Linked DNA regions of Homo sapiens: all the other regions are linked to region 3. Evidence: fine-mapped expression QTL. A gene starts in region 3. Each other region holds a variant in brackets. All regions are shown on one strand. Distances are from middle to middle. Region 1 has its middle 6.5 kb from the start of MIR5700. Region 2 has its middle 12 kb from the start of MIR492. Region 3 holds the start of TMCC3 (transmembrane and coiled-coil domain family 3). Region 4 has its middle 43 kb from the start of TMCC3. Region 5 has its middle 26 kb from the start of TMCC3. Region 6 overlaps TMCC3 (transmembrane and coiled-coil domain family 3).

Evidence for each region. PIP is the estimated chance that this variant, and not a neighbour inherited with it, causes the effect.
Region 1: its variant is fine-mapped to the expression of TMCC3 in transverse colon (CEDAR, PIP 0.95).
Region 2: its variant is fine-mapped to the expression of TMCC3 in lymphoblastoid cells (GENCORD, PIP 0.95).
Region 4: its variant is fine-mapped to the expression of TMCC3 in whole blood (TOPMed, PIP above 0.99).
Region 5: its variant is fine-mapped to the expression of TMCC3 in whole blood (TOPMed, PIP above 0.99).
Region 6: its variant is fine-mapped to the expression of TMCC3 in lung (TOPMed, PIP above 0.99).

What each region holds. Positions count from the first base shown.
Region 1 is chr12:94,552,730-94,557,804 of GRCh38, forward strand. No RefSeq gene overlaps it. Among named protein-coding and RNA genes, the nearest start is that of MIR5700, 6.5 kb to the right of the region's middle. The variant C/G (reference allele first, on the strand shown) is at 1,946.
Region 2 is chr12:94,820,282-94,825,356 of GRCh38, forward strand. No RefSeq gene overlaps it. Among named protein-coding and RNA genes, the nearest start is that of MIR492, 12 kb to the right of the region's middle. The variant C/T (reference allele first, on the strand shown) is at 2,879.
Region 3 is chr12:94,648,489-94,653,563 of GRCh38, forward strand. TMCC3 (transmembrane and coiled-coil domain family 3) reads right to left here and starts at 2,069. Exons shown (of 4, transcript NM_020698.4): 1 at 1,865-2,069. The coding sequence starts at 1,942. LOC105369914 (a long non-coding RNA gene) reads left to right here. Exons shown (of 2, transcript XR_945225.4): 1 at 1-1,115; 2 at 2,417-2,514. RefSeq lists silencers at 1,313-1,442, 1,533-2,002, 2,023-2,192 and an enhancer at 1,521-2,236.
Region 4 is chr12:94,690,937-94,696,011 of GRCh38, forward strand. No RefSeq gene overlaps it. Among named protein-coding and RNA genes, the nearest start is that of TMCC3, 43 kb to the left of the region's middle. The variant T/C (reference allele first, on the strand shown) is at 2,776.
Region 5 is chr12:94,674,099-94,679,173 of GRCh38, forward strand. No RefSeq gene overlaps it. Among named protein-coding and RNA genes, the nearest start is that of TMCC3, 26 kb to the left of the region's middle. RefSeq lists enhancers at 1,872-1,981, 2,572-2,681. The variant A/G (reference allele first, on the strand shown) is at 2,386.
Region 6 is chr12:94,610,264-94,615,337 of GRCh38, forward strand. The region is part of intron 1 of TMCC3 (transmembrane and coiled-coil domain family 3); the gene reads right to left. Among named protein-coding and RNA genes, the nearest start is that of TMCC3, 38 kb to the right of the region's middle. RefSeq lists a silencer at 3,653-3,883 and an enhancer at 3,812-4,401. The variant C/T (reference allele first, on the strand shown) is at 2,463.

The sequences.
Region 1 (5,075 bases), 96 kb before region 3:
TGCCTTAAGTTGAGGGCAGTAAAACCTCCATCCTGGGCACCTCAGAAGAAATCTGAAGAAAAAAAACAGTTGAAGAATCTTCTCTTTCCCCTCTCTCAATCCTGAAAAGGGTGAGGAGTTCAGGAACACAGGGAGAGGCCCTCAAACCTGCGCTTTGGAAATTCTACCTATAGTGACTTGGCTTTGAAATGTTATCTTCTGTGTTTTAGCATCTTGGGCAAAACTGGTTTAATCACCCACCTCTGGAATGCTTTTTTTTTTTTTTTTTTTTTTTTTTTTTTTTGAGACAGAGTCTCATTCTGTCCCCCAGGTTGGAGCACAGTGGCACGATCTCAACACATTGCAACCTCTGCCTCCCGGGTTCTAGCAATTTTTGTGCCTCAACCTCCCAAGTATCTGGAATTATAGGCATGAGCCACCATGCCTGGCTAATTTTTTTTTTTTTTTTTTTTTTTGGTAGAGACGGTGTTTCAACATGTTGGCCAGCCCGGTCTTGAACTCCTGACCTCAGATGATTCACCAGCCTCAGCCTCCGAAAGTGCTGGGATTACAGGCGTGAGCCAGCGCACCCGGCCTTGGAATGCTTATTATTGAGAAAAATAAACCTCTATTGTTTTAGCCAGTTTTGGCTCAACATTCTATTACTAGCCACCAAAAGCAGCTGAACTGCTTCACTGTGCTGGGTTGGCTTCATGACTCCCCTGGCACAATAAAGACAAAGCCCATCATTTATGATAGTAAAAAACTGCAGATACCCAACAACAGGAGATGAAACCAATGAAACACATACATGATGGAAAATTGTGCAGGCACTTCAAGTGACAACTTATAGGAAAAAGTTCATATTTTGCTAGATTATATACATGCAGAGCAAAAAGACTAAGAGGAAATATGTAAGAAAGGTAAAATTCAATTTGGTTGAGAAATGGAGTAAACATATATTATATATGCATAGAAAATAGCTGGAAGAATACACAATACACAGATATCAACAGTTGCATCTGGGGAGGGGTCTTGGGGATCTGGGTGGGAAGGAAGGTTACTTCTGAATTTTTCAACCATGTGCACATATTCTTTTTTTTTTTTTTTTTTTTTTTTTTTTTTTTTTGAGATGGAGTCTCACTCTGTCGCCCAGGCTGGAGTGCAATGGTGCAATCTCAGCTCACTGCAAACTCCGCCTCCTGGGTTAAAGCAATTCTCAAGCCTCAGCCTCCCCGAGCAGCTGGGATTACAGGTGCGGGCCACCATGCCTGGCCAATTTTTATATTTTTAGCAGAGACAAGGTTTCGCCACGTTGGCCAGGCTGTTCTCAAACTCCTGACCTCGTGATTCGCCTGCCTCGGCCTCACAAAGTGCCGGGATTCCAGGCGTGAGCCACCGTGCCCGGCATGTGCATATATTCTTTTCTCAACTGAGGAAAGTAGTAGTTTCGTGGGTAGGGTTGGGTGGTGAAGGTTGTTTTTGTTTAAGTTCAACGTTTTTGGAGGGAAAGGGATAATAATGGTTTTCTCTAGGTGGAAGAATTAATGCGGATTTTTATCTTTCTCTGTCTCTTCTATATTTCCCCAAATGTCTCCAAGTCATTTTGTATTACTAAAATAATCAGGAAAAAACCCACAATAAAATGCTCTTCCTTTCCTTGTTCCCTTTCCTTCCAGAATAATTCAGTTTTAAAGCCATTAGCAGTTAGTTGAACAGAGTAAGGCAGGGACCCATGGTGGGAGGGGCTGGTAGCCTAGAGCAGGGTGGCCGAGCTCAGGCATGGGGAGGAGGACACAGGGGAGGGGGTACCCGGCAGAGTCATCAATCCAGAAGGGTGGAAGAGGGCTTCCTTGAATGGGCAGCCTGGAGCATGTGTCAAAGCCAGAGAGGGTGGCAGGGAGGTACATGCACTGGGGCCACCAGCAAGGTTGTCTTAGATCCAAGTAGGGCGAGGCAGTCAGCA[C/G]TGTTAGTACCCAACCATCACCCACATGGTGGAGATGTGGGCAGCAGAGATGGGAAATTTGTTATACAGAGGGAGTGGAGAAAATGAGTAAATATGTTAGAGACAATGGAAGTCCGTGCTTTCACTGTAGGAGAAAGAAGTTACAAATATGGAAAGGAGAGCTTGAATAAACCCAGAGGTGTTGATTGGTATTGGAGGTATTAGTGCGCACTCATGATTTTCAATATAGACATAGATGCAGAAATCAGCAGAGATTTAAATTTTTATATAAATGCATATAAGTATATAAATAAATACAGACATTGTCTTAGTCAGCTCAGGTTACTATCACAAAATACACTAGATTGGGTGGCTTACACAACAGACATGTATTGCCCATAGTTCTGGAGACTGGGAAGTCCGAGATCAAGATGCTGGCTAGGGCCCTCTTCCTGGCTTGCTCCCTACCTTCACACTGTGTCCTTACATCATGGGACAGAAAGAGAGAATGAGAAAGAGAGACTGCTGCTCTTTTTTTTTTTTTTTTTTTGAGACGAAGTCTTGCTCTGTTGCCCAGGCTGGAGTGCAGTGGTGCAATCTTGGCTCACAGCAATTTCTGCCTCCCAGGTTCAAGCGATTCTCCTGTCTCAGCCTCCCGAGTAGCTGGGATTATAGGCATGTGCCATCATGCCCAGCTAATTTTTTGTATTTTTAGTAGAGACGCGGTTTCACCATTTGGCCAGGCTGGTCTTGAACTCCTGACCTCAAGTGATCCACTTGCCTTGGTCTCCCAGAGTGTTGGGATTACAGGTGTGAGCCACCTCGCCCAGCCATGCCCTCTCTTCTTATAAGGCCACTAATGCCATCATGAAGACCCCACCCTAATAACCTAATTTAACCTTGATTACCTTCCACAAGCCCCATTTCTAAATACTATCACAATTGGGACTAGGGCTTCAACATATGAATTTTGGGGGACTCAAAGATTCAGTCCATAACAGATGTCTATGTATGTACCTGTATCATTACATACTATACACACATACATATATCCATATACAAAATGTATTCCCTACCCTGTCTACTATGACGACCTGGGAGTGGTGATGCCCTAATAGCAGAGCAAACCTAGAATCCAGATCTTGGCTTTAAAATGCAGTTTTCCACCAAATGCAACCCAGGCTCCTTACAAGAACGGTCAGTTCTAGGTCTAGGGCAAGGAAAGTACAACATGAGCCTGGAGCACGTGCTTGCTCAAAGAATAATGAGGACATGGCAAAAGGACACAAAACATTGCTTAAATGAGTTCCCACAGCTGTACAGGGTTCAACTTGTTATTAAAATGAATAATAATCATGGATTACAACCCTTTGAATAAAATAGGAAACAGTGATTCCATACTAATATTAGCAAATAGATGAATAAATTGAAAGTTTGGTGAGAAATGGGAGGTACAACATACTTCTCCACTAAATCCTCATTAATTACTCATGGGGACAAAACATCTTTACAGTGAAGGGGCCTAGAAGACACCTTAATTATCAAAGCAAAATCATCAATAATGGGACAAATGGAAACTGAGCTCTATGTGACAGGATGCAATGAGAACAGTATCATTTCTGTGATGTTCTGGCCAAAGATGGATAACTTGAGTTTAATCACAAAGAAACACCAGATTGTGGGACATTATACAAAATGACTGGCCTATAATCTTCAAAAGTGCCATGATCATGAAAGTCAAGGAAAGATGGGAGGAATTCTTTCATTCAGGAGACAAAAGAGATAACTAAAGGTAACCTGTAATTCTGAACTAGGTCATTTTGCTGCAAAGGCAATTATTGGGACAATTGGTGAAACTTGAGTGGGGTCTAAGGACTGGATGTCAGTAAGACATCTATTTACCTTCCTGATTCTGACAGCTGTATTATGGTTTTGAAGGAGAGCGTCTTTATCTGTAGGAATTACACGTTAGAGTAACTGCATGTGACCGGATATCAGGTTGGCAACTGATGGTTACTCTCAGGTGGTTCAGGAAAAATATAATTCTTTGTACAGAACATCCAACTTTTCACTAAGTTTATGATCAGTTCAAAATTTTTAAAAATTTAAACAAATAAATTGATTTACATATAGAACTGAACATCTCTAAATATATAGTAAACGTTATTACATATTATATTTTTATTTATGCATTAATAATGTATAAATATAAAGTACTAAAACCTGGGAGCAGATCTCAACTTCCTTATGCCCAATGGGAATCTTCAAGCCCCTGAAGTTCCAAAGAGGTTCCAAAGAGAGCGAGCCAGGCCTTGGGAGGCTGCATAACTATAACTGAAGGCTGGGTCCCTCTCTATACCTTCTGACCATCCTATTCTGAGAAGATGGCTTTCAAACATCCTAGAAAACTCAAAATCAGAAATTCTAAATTTCTAATATTCTGTCCCTGGGCTCTCTATTCTGTTCCATTGGTCTATCTGTCTGTTGTTACGGAAGGATCATGCTGTTTTGTTTACCACAGTTTTATATATATTTTGAAATCAGGTAATGTGATACCTCCAGCTTTCTTCTTTCTGTTCAAGATTGCTTTGACTATTTGTGGTCTTTTGGGATCCCATATATATTTCATAAGTGTTTTTTTATTTATGTGAAGAATGTCATAGATATTTTGATTGGTATTTCATTGAATCTGTAGATTGCTTTGAGTAGTATGGACATTTTAACAATAATAATTATTCCAATCCATGAACATGGGATATCTTTCCACTTATTTGTGTCTTGTTCAATCTCATTCATCAGTGGTTTCTAGTTTTCAGTGTACAGATCTTTCACCTCCTTAAGTTTATTCCCAAGTATTTTAATTTTTGGTAGCTATTGTAAATGGAATTTTCTTAATTTCTGTTTCAGATAATTTGCTGTTAGTGTACAGAAACACTGCTAATTGTATAGTGTTCTCATAAATCACTGAAATCCCAGAAATTCTGCTAATTCAGGATCCCAAAGGCATGCCACAGATTGTTTCATGTCCCTGGAAGTGACTTGATGGTTTGGCATCAGACAGAGGAGGGTTTGATTTCCAATTCTACCATTTCTGTACCATTTCTCACCCTTTCAGCACCATTGCCTCTTGTTCCTTCATGTGTCAAGTAAG
Region 2 (5,075 bases), 170 kb after region 3:
ATTCCTTCCATGAGGTCTTACAATCCTACCATCACTATAAACTAGCCAAAATTAAAATATATCTGGGCAGACAGGAGACCCAGATGGGTAGGAACTAAATATACAAACATTTCTCTCAGTAGAGAGAAAAACCAAGAAAAGGGAAGAAATAAGATTCAAAATGATCCCAAGAGGCACATCCTGGGGAAAACCCAACAAGATAAATATAGTAAGTCCTCAAAAGATGCTAGTTACTAGTATTATCATTAATGTTAAATAGTAATATTAACTGTAAATCCCTGCATTTATATTGAAGATAGCAATTACATAAGAAAAGATATTAGAGAACTGGCTTAGCCAAAATCCACAGGAGAAAATAAAATTTGCGTTTTGGCTAATCACAAGCCCAACACGTGTCAGCACTGCAATGTAGCTGATAAGTAACTAACACCACTGGGCAGCCCTCACCCAGAGCAAAGGAGCTAACAGGCTCACAAAACTCTCCCAGCCAGGCCATATCTGATGTGTAGGTTTGATTTAGGCACAAAAGATATAGACAATCGGAATTGCATCTAGCAAGAAGTGACTATCACAGCTGTAAGTCTGGAATCCAAATTAAACACAAAATAGTTGATAGAACAGGTGGCAACCATGGAAGTGATGGTTTAAGGTACTCTTCGATATTTGAAGAGCTGCCAATAAAGAATGGCACTAGTTGTTTTGTGTCACCAACGGGTGAAATTTACAGGGGAGGCTAAGTTAGGCTCCATACATAAAATGATTTTCCAATACTTAAAATTATCCAAGAATTGATCCCACGGGCTTGAAAAGTTTTAAGCTTTCTTTTTGAAAGTGCCTGGGAGCCAGAAGATTATCAACCAACAAGAGCAATCTAAGGATTCCTCTGGTGGGTGAAGGGATGCACTCTGAAGTTTCAAGGCCCCTTTCAGCATCAAGAATCTGCAATTCTATGGTTCTGACTATAGCTGAGCTTCATCAGATTAGTAGACAGAGCCCAGTGCTACCCTCTCCTCCCACTCATTTTTGCATGGTGAATGGTAAATATTCTTGGGGCGAGGCGCAGTGGCTCACGCCTGTAATCCCAGCACTTTGGGAGGCCGAGGCAGGCGAATCACAAGGTCAGGAGATCGAAACCATCCTGGCCAACATGGTGAAACCTTGTCTCTAAAAAAAAATACAAAAATTAGCTGGGTGTGGTGGCATGTGCCTGTAATCCCAGCTACTTGGGAGGCTGAGGCAGGAGAATTGCTTGAACCAGGGAGTCGGAGGTTGCAGTGAGCTGAGATCGCACCACTGCACTCCAGCCTGGCGACAGAGCAAGACTCCATCTCAAAATAAATAAATAAATAAATTCTTGGTAGACTCTGGAAAAAATGATCAAATAATACTTGTGTCTCCAATATTAACTAATTTGTGTTAAATACCCTTTTATTCTACTTAAACTCTTGTATTTCTTATCTGCAAAAGGACCTAAATGAGAAGATAAAGGTAAATTAACTCTGAAAACCTTTAAAGCAATGTAAGGGATATTTTTATAATTATTGATGTTTATCAATAAGTAGAGAAGCACTCAACTAATTTTTTAAAAAAGAAAAATTTGCATATAAAGCAGTCATTTTTCTTATCTGACTTCAATTGTAAATTGCTGAGGAAGGTCTAATTTCACCTTCTATCTCAAGATTTGGTAGCCAAAGTTACCAAAGGCCTGCATAGTTACCAAAGGCCTGAACACACAATTCCAGGAAGGTGCCCAACACAGTGTATTAGCAAGAGAACTTGGAGGCTGGGCTTTGCCTTCTGTCCTCAAACAGGAATAAATGTAGATCCAGGGAGAATGAAAGAGTAAAAATTGGGACATCTAAACTAAGAATAAACCAAAGAGACAGGAATATTTGGGTGCTAAGAGGCAAAGGCCAAACACAAACTATAAAAGAAAAAATTGATTAACTGGACTTCAGAATTAAAAGCTCTCTTCAAAAGTCACCATTAAGAAAATTAATTAATTACTCTACATATTTACCAGTGAAAGAAAAGGAAAATGAAATGCAAGCCACAGATGGGTGAAAATATTTATAAATGATATCTGATAAGGCACTTATATCCAGAATATATAAAGAACTCTCACAACTCAATAATAAGACAAGGAACTCAATTTAAAAATAGGCCAGGCCGGGTGTGGTGGCTCACGCCTGTAATCCCTGAACTTTGAGAGGCCAAGGCAGGCAGATCACCTGAGGTCAGGAGTTCAAGACCAGCCTGATCAACATAGTGAAACTCCGTTTCTACTAAAAATACACAAATTAGCCAAGCATGGTAGAGCATGCCTGTAATCCCAGCTACTTGGGAGTCTGGGGCAGGAGAATCGCTTGAACCTAGGAGGCAGAGGTTGCAGTGAGCCAAGACTGTGCCACTGCACTCCCACCTAGGTGACAGAGCAAGACTTCACCTTAAAAATAAATAAATAAATAAATAAAAATAAAAATAGGCCAAAAATTGAATGGACATTTCACCAAAGAAAATATATAAACAGCTGAGTGGGTTCCAAGATGGCCGAATAGGAACAGCTCCAGTCTACAGCTCTCAGCGTAAGTGACCCAGAAGACAGATGATTTCTGCACTTCCATCTGAGGTACCGGGTTCATTTCACTGGGGCTTGTCAGACAGTGGGTGCAGCCCAGGGAGTGTTAGGTGAAGCAGGGCGGGGCATCGCTTCACCCGGGAAACACAAAGGGTCGGGGAATTCCCTTTCCTAGCCAAGGGAAGCCGTGACAGATAGCACCTGGAAAATCGGGACACTCCCACCCTAATACTGCGCTTTTCCAATGGTCTTAGCAAACAGCACACCAGGAGATTTTATCCCACGCCTGGCTCGGAGGGT[C/T]CCAAGCCCACGGAGCCTTGCTCACTGCCAGCACAGCAGTCTAAGATCGAACTGCAAGGTAGCAGCAAGGCTAGGGGAGGGGCATCTGCCATTGCTTAAGCCTGAGTAGGTAAACAAAGCGGCCCAGAAACTCGAACTGGGTGGAGCCCACTGCAGCTCAAGGAGGCCTGCCTGCCACTGTAGACACCACCTCTGGGGGCAGGGCATAGCTGAACAAAAAGCAGCAGAAACTTCTGCAGACTTACACGTCCCTGTCTGACAGCATTGAAGAGAGTAGTGGTTCTCCCAGCACGGAGTTTGAGATGTGAGAACGGACAGACTGCCTCCTCAAGTGGGTCCCTGACCTCCAAGTAGCCTAACTGGGAGACACCTTCCAGTAGGGGGCCGACTGACACCTCATACAGCCAGGTGCCCCTCTGAGACAAAGCTTCCAGAGGAAGGAATATTTGCTGTTCTGTAATATTTGCTGTTCTGCAGCCTCCGCTGGTGATACCCAGGCAAACAGGGTTGGAGTGGACCTCCAGCAAACTCCAACAGACCTGCAGCTGAGGGTCCTCACTGTTAGAAAGAAAACTAACAAACAGAAAGGACATCCACACCAAAACCCCATCTGTACGTCACCATCATCAAAGACCAAAGGTAGATAAAACCACAAAGATGGGGAGAAACCAGAGCAGAAAAGCTGAAAATTCTAAAAATCAGAGCGCCTCTTCTCCACCAAAGGAACGCAGCTCCTCGCCAGCAATGGAACAAAGCTGGACGGAGAATGACTTTGACAAGCTGACAGAAGTAGGCTTCAGACGATTGGTAATAACAAACTTCTCTGAGCTAAAGGAGGATGTTCAAACCCATCACAAAGAAACTAAAAACTTTGAAAAAAGATTAGACGAATGGCTAACTAGAATAAATGCGTAGATAAAAGCTTAAATGACCTGATGGAGCTGAAAACCATGGCACAAGAACTATGTGATGCATGCACAAGCTTCAGTAGCCGATTCAATCAACTGGAAGAAAGGGTATTAGTGACTGAAGATCAAATGAATGAAATGAAGTGAGAAGAGAAGTTTAGAGAAAAAAGAGTAAAAAGAAACAAACAAAGCCTCCAAGAAATATGGGACTATGTGAAAAGACCAAATCTATGTCTGATTGGTGTACCTGAAAGTGACAGGGAGAATGGAACCCAAGTTGGAAAATACTCCTCAGGACATTATCCAGGAGAACTTCCCCAACCTAGCAAGGCAGGCCAACATTCAAATTCAGGAAATACAGAGAACACCACAGAGATACTCCTCGAGAAGAGCAGCTCCAAGACACATAATTGTCAGATTCACCAAAGTTGAAAATGAAGGAAAAAATGTTAAGGGCAGCCAGAGAGAAATGTCAGGTTACCCACAAAGGGAAGCCCATCAGACTAACAGCAGATCTCTCAGCAGAAACTCTACAAGCCAGAAGAGAGTGGGGGTCAATATTCAACATTCTTAAAGAAAAGAATTTTCAACCCAAAATTTCATATCCAGCCAAACTAAGCTTCATAAGTGAAGGAGAAATAAAATACTTTACAGACAAGCAAATGCTGAGAGATTTTGTCACCACCAGGCCTGCCCTACAAGAGCTCCTGAAGAAAGCACTAAACATGGAAAGGAACAGCCAGTACCAGACACTGCAAAAACATGCCAAATTTTAAAGACTATCGAGGCTAGGAAGAAACTGCATCAAGTAACGAGCAAAATAACCAGCTAACATCATAATGACAGGATCAAATTCACACATAACAATATTAACCTTAAATGTAAATGGGCTAAATGCTCCAATTAAAAGACACAGACAGGCAAACTGGATAAAGAGTCAAGACCCATCAGTGTGCTGTATTCAGGAAACCCATCTCATGTGCAGAGACACATATAGGCTCAAAATAAGGGATGGAGGAAGATCTACCAAGCAAATGGAAAACAAAAAAAAGCAGGGGCTGCAATCCTAGTCTCTGATAAAACAGACTTTAAACCAACAAAGATCAAAAGAGACAAAGAAGGCCATTACATAATGGTAAAGGGATCAATTCAACAAGAAGAGCTAACTATCCTAAATATATATGCACCCAATACAGGAGCACCCAGATTCATAAAGCAAGTCCCTAGAGACCTACAAAGAGACTTAGACTCCCACACAATAATAATGGGAGACTTTAACACCCCACTGT
Region 3 (5,075 bases):
TGGTGGGATTACAGGCATGAGCCACCGCCCCCGGCCCGTCAGCAGAATTTTAAAGAAAATCAAGAAATCACATAAGGTTTTGACCTTTTAATAGAAAAGACTGGCGTAGACAGGCAACAGTGGCAGATGCGGCAGAAACACTCTGCAGTTACCTTACACAATTGCTTTACCACATTCCACCTAAGCAGTTGAGGCACAAACTTTATCACCACCATTTTACAGGTTATGAAGAGTGAGTTTTGTAAAGTTGCATGAGTTTTGCCAAACCACTTAAATGAGTTGACAATGAGCCATCCATCCCGCTAAGATTACTAATCTTGTTTACACAAAGAAGATCACAGTTGTGACAAGAAAAAACAAGCTTTCACATTTCAAGTCTGCAATATTAACTTTACAGAATCCTCTCAATTACAAATGCATTCGAAGATGATCTCCTTTTCTTCATAGTTCTGTTAACTAGCATTACAGCTATCCAAGAAGAAATGTCTACCTGTGGGTAAGCACATTTCTTCAATGTTTATTCCAAATGGAGTTTCTGGTTATTTTCACAGCAAACTGTTACGAAACTTATACACAAAGTGCAAAAACAAGAGAATTGTAAGATTGAGATGAGTGCATGAGGTATTATTCCACCAAATATATTCAATCTGTAAAAACTCAAATCATCCTTCCAAAATGATTAACAGATGCTAAAGGAAAAAGGGAAAGCGGGCAAATAAACCAGAGACTCATTGCTTCACTTCTGGGGCAATCGATTACTACTTCAAATTATGAGTGAAGACCAAAATCCTGCACAAAGGGCCGCGACACAACCCCGTCACTATTGCTACTATTTCCATCCAGTTGGTCTCTCGATCTTGGAAGTGGCAGGCCAGAATCTGAGCCCGGCTCTCCCTCCGTGAACTTTACACAGAGGCTGACACCCAAATCCCCAGTTCTCGGACAAGCGAGTAAGTAGTTGGCGGAGCAAAGAACAACTCCAGGTGCCTCCTGCCAGAACAGATGCCAGCGTGGAGGAGGTGCTTTGTTAAATGGCACTTCAATCAGCCCTGGGGAGAACGGGTTACAGAGCCTCACATCCAGCCTCGACGATTCAACAGCCCGGGAGGGCAAAGGTATTCACCGGGGAGGGCGAAGGCTTCCTCTCCCAGGACAGACCCGCGCTTGGGCTGCGGCCTCCGTCTTTATTTTGAAGCCCTACAGGGCTCGTCTCTGCAGCAGGCTCAGAATGAGCTATTTTCGCCCACAGCCAAAATCAGCAACAGCAAATTACACTGCAAACAATGGCGAGGGCGCCTGCTCGGCTCGGCTCGAAACTCCGGAGAGGCAGCGCAAAGATTCTGACTTTTCACTTGGGCAGAGCCCGTCCGCCGCCTCCCCGCGCTCCGGCTGCGCACCGCGCTCGGGTTCCGGCCACACGCCCCGAGGACAGGGAGACAGGGCGGCCGCCGGGACGTTCGGCGGGGAGGGCACCGTCACACCCAGGGCGAGACCCCGGAGACCTGGAGACGCGGGGCCGCGGGTGGCCGGGTGGCGGGATTCCCTCGCGGAGCGGCGGGCGCTCCCTGGCGGGGAGGACAGCAGAGCGCGGGCCGTCGGGGAACCGGGCGTCCCGCATAGCGCGCGGGGACCTGGGCGCCGTGAGGGGCAGGCGGACCTGGGATCCCAGAACCGCAGCCTGGGCTCCGACGCCCCCGACGCCCACCCTTTTAGCTCGGAGGATCGGGGAGGCACGGACCTCCGGCGGCAGCGGAGGGCGGCGGCGAAACGCCGGGGGCGCGTGGGTTAGCACTGAGCCGCCGCCCCAGCCCGCCTCGCCCCCGGGCCCGCGCGCACCCGCCGCCCCCCAGCCCGCTGCGCTCACCCGGCTCTTGCAGCGGTGGTGCCGGCCGGGGTACGAGTAGGTCCGGTCCACGGTGAGCGCCGTGTCGCTGCCCGGCATCTCCGCGCTCCGGCCGCGAACTTTCCCGTCTTCTGGGGCTGCCGCGCCGCGAGCCACCGGCTGTGCTCGGGATCACCCTGGGAGCCGCGGGCGAGGGGGCGGCGCGGCTGCTGCAGCTGTTGCCTCTGGTGCCAACACCCGCGCGGCCGCCCTGCGCCGCCGCCGCCGCGGGGTGGGGGAGGCGGGGCAGGAGGCGAGAGTCTCCTCCCCCTTCCCTTCTCCCCGCCTCTCCCGCGCCCCGCAGCCGCCTGGACCCCCCACCCACCCCCGACCCGGGAGGCAATGTCTTCGCCTCCCTCCCTGGCTGAAAGTTGATTCCATCCCCTCCCACACAGCCCTCTTTCTCCCCAAAAGATAAGCGACATCCACACTACACTATCTGTTGACTTATTTTATATATAAAAGGTGACTGTTACTGCAAGAAGTTGACACTTGCCTTAAATGCCTCTTTTTATGTTATTCTCCATTCAACAGGCACTTACTGGGCAGCTGCCATGTACCAGACGCTGGACTAGAGACCAGAGATTTAAAGTAAAAAAATGAAATAAAATAAAAACTCCCCCCGACCATGATTGCCCTGAGCATAGAGCATACTTCCACTTAAACTAAGATCCTACTGTGTTGTGTATTTTAATTTTGCATATCTGGCTCACCTTTATGTTTCTTTCTTTTTTTTTTTTTTTTGAGACTGAGTCTCGCTCTGTCACCCAGGCTGGAGTGCAGTGGCGCAATCTCGGCTCACTGCAAGCTCCGCCTCCCGGGTTCACGCCATTCTCCTGCCTCAGCCTCCCAAGTAGCTGGGACTACAGGCGCCTGCCACCACACCCAGCTAAATTTTTTTGTATTTTTAGTAGAGACGGGATTTCACCATGTTAGCCAGGATGGTCTCGATCTCCCGACCTCGTGATCCACCTGCCCTAGCCTCCCAAAGTGCTGGGATTACAGGCGTGAGCCACTGTGCCCAGCTTACCTTTATGTTTTAAGCTACTTGGAAGTCAGGATATCTTTTCATTTTAGTATTCCCCATTCCCAGTCATCAGTCCCTGCCCACAAGGAATTTGGAGTTTAGAAGAGGAAGGACCATTGGTGAACAATTTAAATATCAGTAACCCCAAACAAAATTCAAAACACCTGTTCTGGCTCTGTAGGGTGTACAGTGGGAGACTGGGCTGAAATATTTAAAGTGCAGCTGTTCCAGAGAGGACCTGGAGCCCAGTGTGACCAGTCCAGGGGGAGGGAAGGATTTCCCTCATAGGGTTCAAAGGGGACGGTAGAGCAGGCTGAAGAAAACTTTGGAGCCCCTAAAATCAGAGGTACATTTGGGAAAACCTCAAGTCATCAGTTTTGGGGAGTGTCCTCAGGAACAGGAAGACATGATGGAAAAGAAGGCAGAGACCATGCAGAATCTTCGTTCAAGGGTAAGAAGTTCAGCCTTATTCTGTGGGAACTGGGTAGCTGTTGGAAATTCTTGAACAGGGAAATGATAGCATGGGAATGGAAGTTTAAGGAGAAGGTATATCTGACATCAGGGTGAAGCAGCGATTGAAGATGGGCAAAACACACTGGCTTCTTAGAAGGCCACTGTAAAGACAGAATAGCCTAATTATCCTTCAGAAGGAGACTAAGTAAATAAATGATGGTACATCATCCAATAGAATATTAGGTAACTGGAATAGAAATGAGGCAGCCCTCTATGAATAGCTTTGGAAGCAAATCTAACATACATGGTTCAGTGGAAAAAAAGCAATGTGCAGGATAATATATATGGCATTCCACCATTTATGTAAAAACAATATATGTTATGTGCTTCTACATGCACGACATATATCTGGGAGGATAAATAAGAAACTAGGGAAACAGACAAGAAATTGATGCCAAGAGAGGGGAACCAGGTAGCTAGAAGGCAGAGATGGAGAGAGATCTAATTTTCACTGTGTATACTTTTGAAACTTGAATGTTTATACTGTGGGCATATATTAACTATTCAGAAAGTAAAATTTTTTAAAAAATGTTTTTTAGAGATAGGGTATCTGTTGCCCAGGCTGGGGTGCAGTGGCACAATCATAGCTCACTGCAGCCTCAAATTCTTGGTCTCAAGGGATCCTCCCACTTCAGTTTCCCAAGTAGCTAGAACTACAGGTGTGTGCCACCATTTCTGGCTAATTTTAAAAATATATTTTTTTGTAGAGAAAGGGTTAAAACTAACTTAAGAAGAAATTGAAAGTCCCATGTAGTCCTTAAGCCATTCAAAAAATTAAATCAACACTTTTAAAAATACCCATCTACCACTACCCCAACACACAACTATACTAGACCCAGAGAGTTTTTCAGGTAAGTTCTTTGAAAGAAGAGAAATACCAAACGCTGGGGTGTGTGTGTGTGTGTGTGTGTGTGTGTGTGTGTGTTGGAGGGAGATTTTAGCTAGGGTGGCTAGAGAAGTCCTCCATGATAAGGTGACCTTGAGCAGAGACTTGGGAAATGAGGAAGCCAGAAGTATAGACATTGAAAATTTCCAGCAGACAAACAGAAAGTCAAGGGCCCTGAACATTTCGGGAGTGTTCAAGGAAGAGCAAGGAGGCCAGTGTTCACTGGAAAGAGATGAGGTCAGAGACATTTCAGAGGGCCAGATCATATATGGACTTTCATTCTATTTTAAGAACTTTAATTTTAGGCAGGGCGTGGTGGCTCACGCCTGTAATCCCAGCACTTCAGGAGGCTGAGGTGGGCCGATCACCTGAGGTCAGCAGTTCAAGATCAGCCTGACCAACATGGAGAAAATCTGTTTCTACCAAAAATACAAAATTAGCCGGACATGGTGGCGCATGCCTGTAATCCCAGCTACTCAGGAGTCTGAGACAGGAGAATCGCTTGAACTCAGGAGGCAGAGGTTGTAGTGAGCCAAGATCATGCCATTGCACTCCAGCCTGGGCAACAAAAGCAAAACTCTGACTCAAAGAAAAAAAAAAAAGAAAAGAAAGAACTTTAATTTTGGGGAATATGGGAAGATTTGGAAATTTTTGAGCAAAGGAGTGGCATGATCTACCTTTTCACTTGGATGAAAATAAAATTGATCTCTACCTCACAGCATAAACAAAAACCAATACCAGATAAAGGAAAAATAAAGAAAAAAAAT
Region 4 (5,075 bases), 42 kb after region 3:
TTCACAATGTCCCCAGCACCTACCTGTGTGCACAGCTCAGGACTGGTATTCTGTAAATATTTGTGGAATGAATAAATGAACAAATGAGGTAGAAAGACAGGGTACCACGAGAATCCTCTTGAATAAAATGGAGAGTTTTGAAAGGGATTAAATTGCTATTGTCATGTTTAATTTTACTGGAAAATATTTGTAATTCTACTGAAACACCAGGTTGGTGTGGTCTAGAGAAAAAAAATACTAGACACCATTTTTTTTCCATATAAGACAAACCAAAGCAAGGAACTTCATTTTTTAAAATTTATTATTTTTTTTTATTTTAAATGTTTTTTTTCTGGGTACATAGTAGGTGTATATATTTATGGGGTACATGAGATGCTTTGATACAGGCATGCAATGTGAAATAAACACATCATGGAGAATGGAGCATCCATCCCCTCAAGCATTTATCCTTTAAGTTACAAACAATCCAATCACATTCTTTAAGTTATTTTAAAAATATACAATTAAATTATTATCGACTATAGTCACCCTATTGTGCTATCAAATAGTAGGTCTCATTCCTTCTATTTTTTTTTGTATCCATTAACAATCCCAACCTCCCCGCCAACCCTCACTACCCTTCCCAGCCTCTGGTAACCATCCTGTTACTCTCTATGTCTATGAGTTCAATTGATTTGATTTTTCGATCCCACAAAATAGGGGACTTTAGGCAAAAAAATAATTGATGCCTAGTATGTGCCAAATATGGTGTAAATAGGAGGTGAGAAACCAAGATAACTTGTGTATATAATGCTATACACCTGGAGTTATTATGCAAACATACAGAGTTACAATAATTGAGCACTTGCTGCATGCCAGACACTATGTAATTCTTCTACTACCACTAAGATGTTGTACCATTATTATTTCCATGTTACAGATTTAGAAACTGAAGCTCTGAGACATTAAAAAAAAAAACAAAAAACCCAGCTCAATACAAGGTAACCTTGAAAATAATATGACACTCGAATTTTCCAGTGAAAAAATTACCCTCTTCCAGAGATTTTTGGCTAACCTGAATTAAAAAGCTTTTAGAAATGACAGCACAAAATCTCATACACATTGTTCAAAATAAGAAACCTACCAAGGTCACTGACTTAATTTTTCCTTTGGTCAAAAGAAGAAGAGACAGAAATAAGTTTCTGAATTTATTTCTCAGAGAACAGCTGTGCCCACTGATCAAACTTAATGTAATCTTTGGGAGTTACAGTTACCAATTTGAATAATGTTACCCCATGACAATTAATTAGCATGTAATGTTATTTCCATTGGAGACATTATTAAATTTTAGAAAGTCTAGATGTCTCCAAGTGGGCTTCTTAGAGATAACTCTGAAAGGATATTTAATGGTAACGAAACACAGGGTAGGATTTTACTGTGGGAATGTTTTCAGGCTTCCATTTTATCCAGCAGCTTTCCTCTGAATGGCTTTACTGTTTATCACTCAGTGTCATGCGCTCGCTCTCTCTCTCTCTGTGTGTGTGTATATATAATATATATTATATATATTATATATATTTATATATATATATATATATTTTTGATACTGAGTCTTGCTCTGTTGCCCAGGCTGGAGTGCAGTGGTGCGATCTTGGCTCACTGCAGCCTCCTCCTCCTGAGCTCAAGTGATCCTCCTGCCTCAGTCTCCCAAGTAGCTGGGACTACAGACGCATGCCACCACGCCCAGCTAATTTTTGTATTTTTGGTAGAGACAGGGTTTCGCCATGTTGCCCAGGCTAGTCTTGAACTCCTGAGCTTGGGTCATCCACCCACCTCGGCCTCCCAAAGTGCTGAGATTACAGGCGTGAGCCACTGCAGTCCCTATATTTACATCAACAGCCTCTCTTAGAGGCCTGGAGTTTCTCTATGATATGGTTTGGCTGTGTCCCCACCCAAATCTCATTTTTAATTATAGTTCCCGTAATTCCCACATGTTGTTAGAGGGACCTGGTGGGAGATCACTGAATCATAGGGGTGGTTTCCCCCATACTGTTCTCATGGTAGTGAGTAAGTCTCACGAGATCTGATGGTTTGATAAGAGGAAACCCCTTTGGCTTTGTTCTCATTCTCTCTCATCTGCTGCGATGTAAGATGTGCATTTCACCTCCCACCGTGATTGTGGGGCCTCCCCAGCCACATGGAACTGTGAGTCCATTAAACCTCTTTTTCTTTATAAATTACCCAGTCTCGGGTATGTCTTTATCAGCAGCATGAAAACGGACGAATACAACCAGCAATGCTAAAAAGGAAAAATACACTTTCAAGACCACAGGCAAGATTTTATTTGCTGGGTCTGAATCAGATACACAGACCCCAGACAAATCTAAGGCTAAGTGAAAGAATACGAGAAGAAACAGATTTTCAGGAAGGAATGTGAGACCTATAGCATTTTTCTTCCAGGGATGAAATCATGTGATAATCGGACATCTACTATCCATCAATTTCATTCAATAAACATATTTCAAATGTCTTTATCATGATTAGAGCCAGCCACTTTTAAGCCAACTAACCATTTTCTGAAGTCTTTGTCCTGTCTACTTTGTTTCCTCCATAGAAACACACATGAAAGCAAACACAGCCCCTTCCTCCACTACATTTGTTAAGTAGCCGCATATTATTTCAGAATTTATTACCAATTCTCTAAATTGAACATTGGGTTATTTCCAAATGCTCAATATTACAAAGGACATTGAAATGAACATCCTATGAAGAAACTTCTACACACGATCTTAATGA[T/C]TTCCAAAGAATAGTTATGTCAAAAGTGTGCATGTGCCTAAGGTTTTCAATACACATTGCCAAACTCTCCAGAAAGATCACGTTATAGTTAAGGCAAACTTTTCACTACGTTTCCTGGTATTATCATTGCCACATTTGCCAAGATTTGGCTGTAACACTCAATAAATTTTTTTCAAAACCATTTTTATTATAGTGTATAAGAAGCAAAGTAGGTAAAGTACACAAGCTAAAGTATACAGTCTGATGAATTTTTACATAGGTATGCCTCTGTAACATCACTTGTATCAAAATACAGAATATTTCCAACACCCAGAATGTTTCATTATGACTCTTTCAAATCAATACTTCCCAGCCCCACCCTGGCATAAGGGATAATCTTTTTTTTTTTTTTTAACTTCCTTCCATAACCACTAACAAGTTTTACCTCTTCCTGAACTTCGTAAAAGTACTCTTTTAGTGTCTGGCTTATTTCACCCAACATGATATCTTTGAAATTCATCCATGTTCCTGCATGTTTCATTAGTTTATATTTTAATTAGTTCATTATTTATATTGCTATGAAGTATTTCCCTGTATAGGAAGCACCACATTTTATTGTATCCATTCCCCTCTTGATATCCACTTGGATTATTAATTAGTTTGGGGCTGTTAGGAATAAGGCCGATATGGACACTATTGTGCATGTCTTTTAGAAGACACATGTACATATTTCTCTTGGTTGTATACCTAGTAGTGGAACTGCTATTCTTGGGGTGGGTATACATTTAGCTTTAGTGGAAATTGCTGGTTTTTCAAAACGGCTGAACCAACTTAAATTCCCACCACAAATAATGTGTGAGAGTTTCAGGTATTTCACATAGTTACCAACATACTGCTTAAACCTTAAGGTACTTGGTAGATATATGACATGACAGTCCTTACGTGTTCAATTTTTACATCAGTAATTTATTCTAGAGTTTACCTGTAGTATACAGATTACAATAATGAGGGAGGAAGTTTAGTCAGTTGATTTAAGTGGATGATCCTAGGTAGAGAGGGTCCCAATTATCCTGGTCAGCATGTCTGAGACCGTCCAAAACAAGGGTGCCCCACTCCGGGGCCATGGACTGGCACCCGTGCATGGCCTGTTAGGAACTGGGCTGCATAGCAGGAGGTGAGTGGCAGGTGACCGAACAAGCGAGCGAGCAAGTGGAGCTTCATCTGTATTTACAGCTGCTCCCCATCACTCACATTACCACCTGAGCTCCGCCTCCCATCAGACCAGAGGCAGCATTAGATTCTCATAGGAGCATGAAACCTATATGAACTGTGCATGCGAGGGATCTAGGTTGGGCGCTCCTTACAAGAATGTAATGCCTGAGGATCTGTCACTGTCTCCCGTGCCCCCCGAGATGGGACTGTCTAGTTGCAGGGAAACAAACTCAGGGCTCCCACTGAATCTACATTATGTTGAGTTGTATAATTATTTCATTATATATTACAATGTAATAATAATAATAGAAATAAAATGCACAATAAATGTAATGCACTTTAATCATCCCCAAACTATCCCTTCCCCTCAACCCGCCCACTGTCTGAAAAATTATCTTCCATAAAACCAGTCCCTGGTGCCAAAAAGGTGGGGGACTGCTGATCTAAAGTGCAAAAATGTCAAAGAAAAATCCATATGACCTTTCAAGTCAAGTTATTCACCTCCAAGATGAACCTCTAAGATGTGACAGTCTATAATATGCCACAGAGTCAACAATCTAAAGAAAGATACAGGCACCTGTATCTCAAATCTAAGAGGGCCTATGTTACTCTGCACATTAAGACTTCTCATCTCCATGAGAAGTCTCAAAAATTGTTAAAAAGTCTATTAAAAATCATAATAAGGCCTATAAAACCTTTAGACTTTACCTAGTTGAGGCCTTACATGTCCCTGAGAAGGATGTATTACCGTGTTCATTTTATAAATAAGTGAACTGAGGTTTTTTAAGAGATATAGCTACTGAGATAATGAATCAGTCTCAAAGGCTATGTAGAAGAACCAATTTCAATTCGTTGTCCTCCAACTAATCCATTGCCGGACTTTTTCCAAATGCACACTTACAAAAAGTAATTTGTAACCGTCTACCTGGAAGATCTAGCCATCTGTTAGACACCTGGAGCCAAGAATGTCTGAATCTGCACGAATGCCAAGAAGTGTGCAAAACTGAACTTGCGATCTGCCCCACCATTTCCTGGGCATGCCCAGGGTGGCAGCGGTGCTGGTACCTTCCACCTGCCCCTCAAGATCCACCCCATCTTCTCTGGGAGTC
Region 5 (5,075 bases), 26 kb after region 3:
AATCAAATCGACTTCCCTCAGCATCATAAATCCCATTTGTATCCTAGTAGAAACACACATTTCCTGAGAAAGGGAGCTGGGTCTTAAAAAAGGAAGTTGAAGTTTTTAAGCTGGAGATAAGGCATTTCAAAAGGGAAGAAACTTTTGGCAGGACTCGAGTGCATCCTGCACTAATGGAAATTGGAAACCCATCCTTCATTTCATGAACATTACTATACAAAATGTAAAACATATTGGTACCACAGCAACCAACTCTGCATAATGTACTTGCAGCTTCAAATGGCAACCCTGGGGGAGATAAAAGTTGATTTTTTTTTTTTGCTATCATGAAATGTTGGAATTTCTTAATTCCACAGATATTAGCAAGTGTATATTTCATGCCAGGAAATGTTCTTGGCTCCAAGGATATAGCAGTGAACACAATTAGGTTGCTGGCTTCATGGAGTTATATTTGGAGGTGGGAAATTTTAAAAATTACTGTATAATATAGCAGATTAGAATATATAGGGATGGTATAATATATATTATGGTATATTAGTATATATATTTATCATTATTACATGTGTCACATATAGAAACATAGTATATAATACCATATTATGCAATATAACAAAATATGTCAGGTAGATATAGATCATATCAGATGCTAGTAAATTTTAGAAAGCAGAGAAAAGGGGATAGATGAGTGTTGCATTTCTGAATAATATGTTTTGGGAAGTTCTCATGGATAGGCTGGGACACCTAACTAGAGAACTGAAGGAAGTGAGGGGGTGATACATGTAGAATATCTAGAAAAAGACCATTCTAGGCAAAAGGACCAGCAAGTGCAAAAGCTCCAAGGAAGGGGAGCACTTGATCCATTTGAGGAACAACAGCAAGAAAACCAGCATGGGTGGAGCAGAGTGAGCCGAGCAGGAGAGCGGGGAGGGTGGAGATGAGGTCAGAGAAGCAGCCTGGGGTTAGAAGAACAGCAGCGCAGATCCTGTGGCATTTTCTGGCAGAGTAAGGACTTTTTATGGGGGGGCCAGGGTGGAAGCCGGGAGGCTGATCAGGAGGCTATTGAAACAGTTCAACGTTTCTCTGCATCTGTCCCAGACCGTTCCCTTCCCATCTTGCTTTCTCTCCCAGACCACTGCTGGCTTTTTTTTTTTTTTTTTTTTTTTTAGATGGAGTCCCACTCTGTTGCCCAGGTTGGAGTGCAGTGGAGCAATCTCGCCTCACTGCAACTTCTGCCTCCCAGGTTCAAGCGACTGATTCTCCTGCCTCAGCCTCCCAAGTAGCTGGGACTACAGGCGCATGCCACGACACCTAATTTTTGTTTTTTTGTTTTTTGTTTTTTTTGAGATGGAGTTTCGCTCTTGTAGCCCAGGCTGGATTGCAATGGCACGATCTCGGCTCACTGCAACCTCCGCCTCCCGGGTTCAAGCGATTCTCCTGCCTCAGCCTCCCGAGTAACTGGGATTACAGGCTTGCGCCACCATGCCCAGCTAATTTTTGTATTTTTAGTAGGGACGGGGTTTCACCATGTTGGCCAGGCTAGCCTCGAACTCCTGACCTCAGGCGATCCACCCGCCTCAGCCTCCCAAAGTGTAATTTTTGTATTTTCAATAGAGACAAGGTTTCACTATGTTGGCCAGACTGGTCTTGAACTCCTGACCTCGGACGATCCGCCCACCTCAGCCTCCCAAAGTGCTGGGATTACAGGCGTGAGCCACCTGCCCGGCCATGGAGCCTCTTGCTCCTATGTCTCTTCTGACCTCCAGCCTTACTCACCCATCCATCCAGTTCATCTACACATGGATGGCTCAGTATGTTCAAGTGTGCCCGCCTTCCTCCATGCCCCTCTGGCTCCTCTAGGATCCCACCTTTCAGCAAATGGCACCACCACTTAGTTGCTTAAGACTTCTCTTGGGAGTGTCCCTCCTTTAACACCTCACATCCAGGGACTCACATCCAGAGTCCTGTTGCCGCAGACGCATTTCATTTCCTTTCATGATAACACAGAGGAGTAGAAGGGGCCAAAGGCATAGGAGGAAAACAAGAAAATACAGTGTCACCGGAACCAGGGGAAGTGTGTTGATAAAAGCAGTGGTTAGCATGTACTTCTCACTGTAGCAGACACTATGCTCACCACTTCCCACAAACTATGTCATTTAGACCTCGCTACAATCTGAGGAGGAAGGTGCTACGCCCATTTTGCAAATAATTTAGAGAAGTAAATTTCCCAAGGTCACAGTGTGTACTAAATCCCCTAAGAGAAATAAATTGAGTCTGAAAAACTCAAGTCCACTGAACTGAGTCATGTGGAGACCACCGGTGACCTTAACAAAAACCTGGCCAGTGTCCAGCCGGAAGAAGAGTGAGAAACAAGAGGGAGATGAGAAA[A/G]TAAGGACAGGAAGTTAGCCAACTCTCTCCAGGGTTGGCCTGCAAAGCAGACAAGGAGGAAGATAAGGCTATAGTTGAAGGGAGGGCAGAGGGGCTGGGCACGGTGGCTCACGCCTGTAATCCCAACACTTTGGGAGGCTGAGGTGGGTGGATAACTTGAGGCCAGGAGTTCCAGACCAGCCTGGCCCACATGGCGAAAGCTTGTCTCAAAAATAAAAACTAAAAAAGAGAGTGCTGGGGGAGTGTCTAGGGAAGGTTTTATTTTAGGTGACAACAAAGTAATTTAAATTTCTAAAACTCAACCCCTTTGCAGAGTGTGGGTTAGCATGTCTATGTGAGCAATCAGCACAGAGAAGGTATTTGTTTTCTCTGCTTCCTGCTCCAAGGAAATTCAGATTTTGCTTATGAGTTTGGTTTAAAAAATCATTGGCTATGCATAAAATTTGCGTCCCATATCCTAGAAGATGGGAAAAGCTATAGAACAGAAGGTGTATAACTGGGTCAACAAAATAAACAAAAAGAGGATCTACTCTGGTTTTCTTGGGAAGCTGAAAAATCAGTGCTTTAGAAAAAACCAGTCAAGCCAGACTATTCTGTCACAATGTGGTGGAGAAACCCCAACACTGAACCCAAAAGCAGATGACCTAGTGGGCTGCTCTTTCCGGCCAGCCACTGTCTAGCTTTGTCATCTTGTATAAGTCACTCAATTCAGGGTCAGCATCCTCTGTGGATCAAGGAGCTAATATTTATTATGCCACACTTGGTTCTGGGCAGAATCAAACAACTGAATCAGCCAGAAGATTGACAGAGGATGCATGATTTCAAACAACTGAAATCAGCCAGTAAAAACGCTTTATACAAATGCAAGGTATTCCCAATATCTATCATAATTGAAGGTAAGCATTAAAAGATACTTATGGGCTAGGTACAATGGCTCACACCTGTAATCCCAGCACTTTGGGAGGCCGAGGCAGATCGCCTGAGCCCAGGAGTTCGATACCAGCCTGGGCAACATGGTGAAACCCCATCTCTACAAAATATACAAAAACTAGCCAGGCATGGTGGTGTGCACCTGTAGTCCCAGCTGCTCGGGAGACTGGGGTGGGGGGATCACCTGAGCCTGGGAGGTTGAGGCTGCAGTGAGCCGTGATGGCACCCCTACACTCCAGCCTGGGCAACAGGGGAGACTCTGTCTCAAAAAAAGAAAGAAGATATTGTACACAGTCTGGAAGCAAGCTGTTTGGATACATGTACATTCACCAACTGATTCAAGATTTTTAAAAAATTCAGTGATAGCTTAACAATGCCAGATATATAACAACAAACACCTGCATATTTACTTTTCATTACAGCTGGTGCTGTTGAAGCTGATTTCCAGTGAATCAGGTTAAGCCAGGCCTAAACTTGTGGCCATGACTGGTCTGTGAAAATGCTCAAAGTGTGACATACTTTCAGTTTGCTCTGGATCTCACAGCATACCAATTCAGTACACAGGTCCTGCCACAGAGGTGTTTCTGGCCTGTGATTTAATAAGCAAAGAAAAACCAGTACAGCCAGTCTAATTATTAGAGCAGCCAAGCTTTCAGACTCTCTTAAATACTTCCAACATCAGGCCTCCCTCAGGCAGGGCAAGATTACACATGACTCCAGCCCGGTACCAATTCCCTAACTGTCCATTTCCTATGGAGACATGGATATGGCCTTCTCTAATTAGAGGGACAAAGACAGAAGAGAACCATTATTAGGACTTTACTTTTTATCCCGTTTTAGTTCTAAAACATTCAAGTCCTGCCCTTCACTGATCACTATTACAAATATTAAAATGGGGGTAGGAGTGGTGGATTAAGTGCCACAGAGACCGAATGCATCAATTGTTTCACTTATGGAACATTCTGGGCTCTGAGAACCTCGGAGTAGGAGTGAATCAATCGTACATCCAAGCAGATAACAGCTCAAATCACCAGCTCAGCACAATTCTTCTGGGCACCCTCTTCTCTATCTGCAAAAAGAGACTGGCTTTCCTTCCTCCTCTTGCCCTCCCTCCTGCCCCCACCCCACCCCCGCCGCGCCCTAGGCCTGGAGTCTAGGGCTGCCCAATGACAGGAACACCCAAATCAGCACTGTCTTCTGGGCTGCGTTGGCTTCTGTGGTTGTAGCTAGGAATGGCCAGCAGGGCGGGGGTTGGGTGGGGTGGGATGGGGGCCGTGGGGGTGGCTGCACAAGGAATCATACACCTTTGGTAATACACTTACCGTTTACAAAAAGTTGAGAGTCCACATAACCAGGAATGTGTAATTCATGCAGCTTCCTAAAACTGCCAGGGAATTATTCTTGCCTCCAAGTCAGCCCTGGCTAGGATCGTAAGTATTATAAATGCAAAAAGAATAAAAAAAAGACAGTGCAATTCTTATTTAGTGGGTATTCAGCTCTCAAACCTGAGGGATGGACTAGGAGATTAACATGATGCTCACCAGCCTCTGAGACCTTCCACAAACGCCCTCTGACCAGTCTTTCCCACCTACCCTCCTGCACTCCCGCACCCTCTGCCCTGCAGTCATTCTGCCTCACTCACCGCGCCCTGCACGTGCCTTGCCTCTCCCTTTGTGCTTTTGCAGGTTATGGTTCCGCTGCTGCATAGAATAATCCCTCCTCTCTCACAGAAATTCCTCCCATCTGGGCCCAGATCAAAT
Region 6 (5,074 bases), 38 kb before region 3:
TTCTTTAGCCACCAAGTGTAAATACATTCCTTTTCCCCAGTGTTTTGGTTACATATCATAATCTCCTTCACCATCATGATCACCACAAGGAAAGAAGGGCTAGGAAGAAAAAACCATCTAGCCCTTTTGGGCTTCCATATAGTTCTGAAAACACCTTAAGGCAGGCAAAAAAAAAAAAAATTTTTTTTTCAAGAGATATAAAGAACAGAAATGGAGATGAAAATATTTACAAGTCTTCTGCCTCTTTCTCTGATTCTTCTATGCTGCTTCTAAAAAAATGATAGTCTGCCACCCCTACCACCACCACCACCACCAACCACCCCATCTGCTGCCAATTCTGCAAACAGCATAGACATCCATCAATAGAGAACCTCTTTTTAAAATTCTAGTACAATGGGAAATGATGCAGCCACTAAAATGGAAACGGATCTGAATGGGCTACCATGGGAAGCTATTCAATCTAAACTGTTAAGAGAGAAAAGCAAGACGCAGGGCTATGCCTACTGTGCACGCTCATCTGTGCTTAAACGAGGGGTGGAGGGATTTATGATAGATATGTACAATTGTATACTCTATGTGTATGAACATTTCTAGAAGCTGTCTTAAGAACTGTGGATGGTAGTTACCTCTGGGGAATAGGACTGGGAATCTGCAGACACAGATACTTTTTGTTTTATATTATCTTTTTGAGAGAGTAATTCATCTTATTTTCATATTAAAAAAAAATCCCCAGTGCCTGAATTTCAAAGTGAGACTAATATGCAAATACCTGCAAAATTTCATTAGCACACTTAAGATACTTCCTTGTCTCCTCCAGTGACCTATGATTTTACTAACAGTAGCAAAATAAATAATCTATAGGATAGTAGGCATTTTTGTAACTCATCCTAACTGAATTTTGTTTATGTAATTACTTTTAGAAAAGTAACTCCCTACTGAAAAGAGAAATTTTAAATCCCATTTCCCAAGGAAATAAAACCATGGCTTAAAAGGTAGTTCTAAAACAAATTTTATGGGACTAAGCTGGAATTGCCAAGTCATAAATATAAGTTTTCAAGTAAAAGTCCCATTAAAATATTGAATACTAATGTTACATCTTTCTTAAATAACTTCATAAAATGCTGTCTTTTTAAGGGACCAATGCCACTGAAATATTTCTACTGAGAACTGGGTTGCCCAAGGCTCACAGCTTTGAATCTGTATTTCATGGGCAATGATGTTTTCCATAAAGACTCTTCACTGAGAATACTCATACAAGCAGACCATGGCAGTGTATGATAGGCGTATATATACAGTTGTCCCTTGGAATCCATGGGGGATTGGTTCTAGGACCTCCTGCAGATACCAAAATCTGCGAGTGTTCAAGTCCCTGATATAAAATGGTGTAGTATTTGCATATAATCTACATACATCCTCCTGTATACTTTAAATCATCTCCAGATTACTTATAATACCTAATACAATGTAAATGCTTGTAAATAGTTGTATTTTTTAGGGAATAATGACAAAAAAAAAAACACTCGGTACCTGTTCAGTACAGATGCAATTTTTCTTCCTAAATATTTTTGACCCCTGGTTGGTTGAATCCATGAATGTGAAATCCGTGGATGTGGAGGGCCAACTGTATATCCATTCATGGCAACTGAAGGGTCACAGAGTTCATCTAGAGACTGTTTACATATAGTTCATGTGATTCCTGAGGCTAGACTGTTTTACCTGTGATTCTCAGGTTTGGTGTTTTTGTTTGTTTTTTGAGACAGTGTCTTGCTCTATCAACCAGACTGGAGTGCAGTGGTGCAATCACAGCTCACTGCAGCCTTGATCTCCTGGGCTCAACTGATCCCCCTACTTCAGCCTCCTGAGTATCTGGGACTACAGGTGCACACCATCATGCTCGGCTAATTTTTGTATTTTTTTGTAGAGACGAGGTTTCACCATGTTGACCAGGCTGGTCTCGAACTCCTGGGTTTCAAGCAATCCGCCTGCCTTGGCCTCCTAAAGCTGGGATTACAGGCATGAGCCAGCGTGCCCAAATGGTTCTCAAGTTTATTTTATTTATTTTTTTTGAGATGGAGTCTCGCTCTGTCACCAGGCTGGAGTGCAGTGGTGCGATCTCGGCTCACTGCAATCTCCGCCTCCCGAGTCCAAGTGATTCTCCTGCCTCAGCCTCCCGAGTAGCTGAGACTACAGGTGCCCGCCACTACACTCGGCTAATTTTTTGTATTTTTGGTAGAGACGAGGTTTCACCATGTTGGCCAGGCTGGTCACGATCTCTTGACCTTGTGATCCACCCGCCTCGGCCCCCAAAGTGCTGGGATTACAGGCGTGAGCCACCGCACCTGGCCTCAAGTTTTAAAGTTTGGTTTTGTCCTTCAAAAATTGTTTCTACAGCTACAACTACAAAAAAGGAATAATGTTATCTCCTTAAGGTTAAAGTCAGTTTCTCAGAAGACAAAGCAAGA[C/T]AGAATTACTTGCACTTTTAAAATTTTTTCAGTGGTTCTAGGATTCATTTTAAAATGAAGCAATGCTAAAAGCAGACTGCAAGGTATATTTGCAGTGTTTGATTTTAACTGATTCTTAAAACATTAAAAACTGTTTGGCATTTGAGCATGTGCATCCCCTAGAGACCCAGAAATTCCATTTGTAGGTTAGAGGAGCAAGTGCCCCTGTTAGGAGCACATTGAAAATATACACAGCAGCATCACTTGCAAAAGAAAAACAATAAAAGCAATAACAAAAGACAACCCACAAATAATCCAAAGCCTATGGGCAATAAAATGGAGAGATATATATACACGCACATTGGAGATATATATATATATACACACAATAAAATGGATACACACACACACACACACACACATTGTGTTTATTTGTACAGTGGAATGAAATAAACCAGAACTACAAGAATTAAAATGGGCCAGGCACAATGGCTCCCACCTGTAATCCCAGCACTTTGGGAGGCCGAGGCTGGTGGATCACATAAGCCCAGAGTTCGAGATCAACATGGGTAACATGATGAAATGCTGTCTCTACCAATAATAATAATAATAATAATTAGCCAGGCATGGTGGCACACACGTCTGTAGTTGCAGCTATTTGGAAAGCTGAGGCAAGAGGATGAGCCTGGGAGGTTGAAGCTGCAGTGAGCCAAGATCACGCCACTGCACTCCAGCCTGGGTGACAGAGCGAGACCCCGTCTCAAAAAGAATAAAATGATTAAATCTTAAAAGAAGCAAATCAAAGAACACATACTTTATGAATTCTACTTTATAAAGGTCAAACGCAGGCAAACTCTTTTTTAGGTATGAACACACATGTGATAAAAAGAGAAAAATCTTGAGAATAGTTAAACCTTATGGCAGCGATGACCTCTTGGGGGTGGGAAGGCTTGTGATGTAGGGATGCTCAATCAGGGAAGGTCACAGGGTCAAGTTCATCTCCTCACCCTGGGTATAACGTACAGGGGTGTTTCATGTATTTTTTAATGGAATATCTTCTTTGTATGATATTAGTTTACAAACATTTTAAAATAAAAACTATGGAGTAGGCCGGACGCAGTGGCTCATACCTGTAATCCTAGCACTTCAAGAGGCCGAGATGGGCGGATCACAAGGTCAGGAGATCGAGACCATCCTGGCTGACACGGTGAAACCCCATCTCTACTAAAAATACAAAAAAATTAGCCGGGCATGGTGGTGGGTGCCTGTGGTCCCAGCTACTCGGGAGGCTGAGGCAGGAGAATGGCGTGAACCTGGGAGGCGGAGCTTGTAGTGAGCCGAGGTTGCACCACTGCACTCCAGCCTGGGCGACAGAGTGAGACTCCATCTCCAGAAAAAAAAAAAAAAAAAAACTATGGAGTAAATTACACAGTAAAATAAAATGTGTGTGTGTGTTTGCTTAAGCTGTAGAATGAATGTCTTCTGTCAATCCTATTGCTTTATCTCTGGCTCTATACTTAACTCGTTGGGTAATAATGTTAAAATCTAAATTTGAGACCCTACTTAAATTGTGACCTGGTCTCAAAGGTCCTCGGGTCACCACTGCAATGATCTTCTTGGATCATTATCCTCACTGGTTACACACAGGAATGTGAAGCATGCAGTCAGGAGAAAGCCCTGTAATTGCCCCCAGGCCACAAGTAATCCCCCTGGAAGCAAAAACAACCTCCTCTCCATAAACTGACTAGAAAGGAACAGGTGGGAAGGACAGCAGAGGGGTGGCCAGCATTGTCAGGGTTTCTCCAGAATGGCCTGTCAACCAGGACAAGCCCTGTTCCCACATCTTTTTGAACAGCCTGGCACAGAAAGCAGCTCTGACTGTTTTACAAGCAGCACTCTTGCAGTTTGGGGAGCCATTTTCCCTTTTATTCCAATTGAAACTGTGTGCATCAAGCTCTGTCAACTGTTGCACTCACAGTGTTACGAGGCTATTGCATGATATGCTGTCGGAACAACTGGCCTCTCTGACTTTTTTCTTTTTTTAAACAACAGACAGATTTTTTTTTTTTTTTTTGGTTTGAGACAGAGTCTCACTCTGTCACCCAGGCTCGTGTGCAGTGGCGCGATCTCAGCTCACTGCAACCTCCACCTTCTGGGTTCAAGTAATTCTACCTCAGCCTCCCGAGTAGCTGGGATTACAGACGCTGCTACCACTCCCAGCTAATTTTTGTATTTTAAACAACAGAAATGTAACCTCCAAGACCCAAATGATCAAATGACAAGCAGCAAACTTTTCCAACTTTCCCTCCTCTCCCACCCCCAGGTGTTTTGGTTTCTGAAGACTGGGGATCACTATCAACAATGGGCAAACCTTTGCTACAGAACTGATTAGGACAAAACCACCTGAATTAATAAATGTGTGCAAATATTTTAATGTTCAGGGAAGGAAAGAAAGATTGCATTTTGTGTCAATATAGAGAAGTCTTCTATGACAAAGAGCCACAAGTGAACACAGATTTCCTGTGAGATCAAAGGCTCCCCCAGGCAGAAATCACATGAACCTGAGCCTTCACCACCCTATGGGGAATGAATCCCACACTATGGGGTGTCCAAGCATGGTCCGAGGAGGCCCA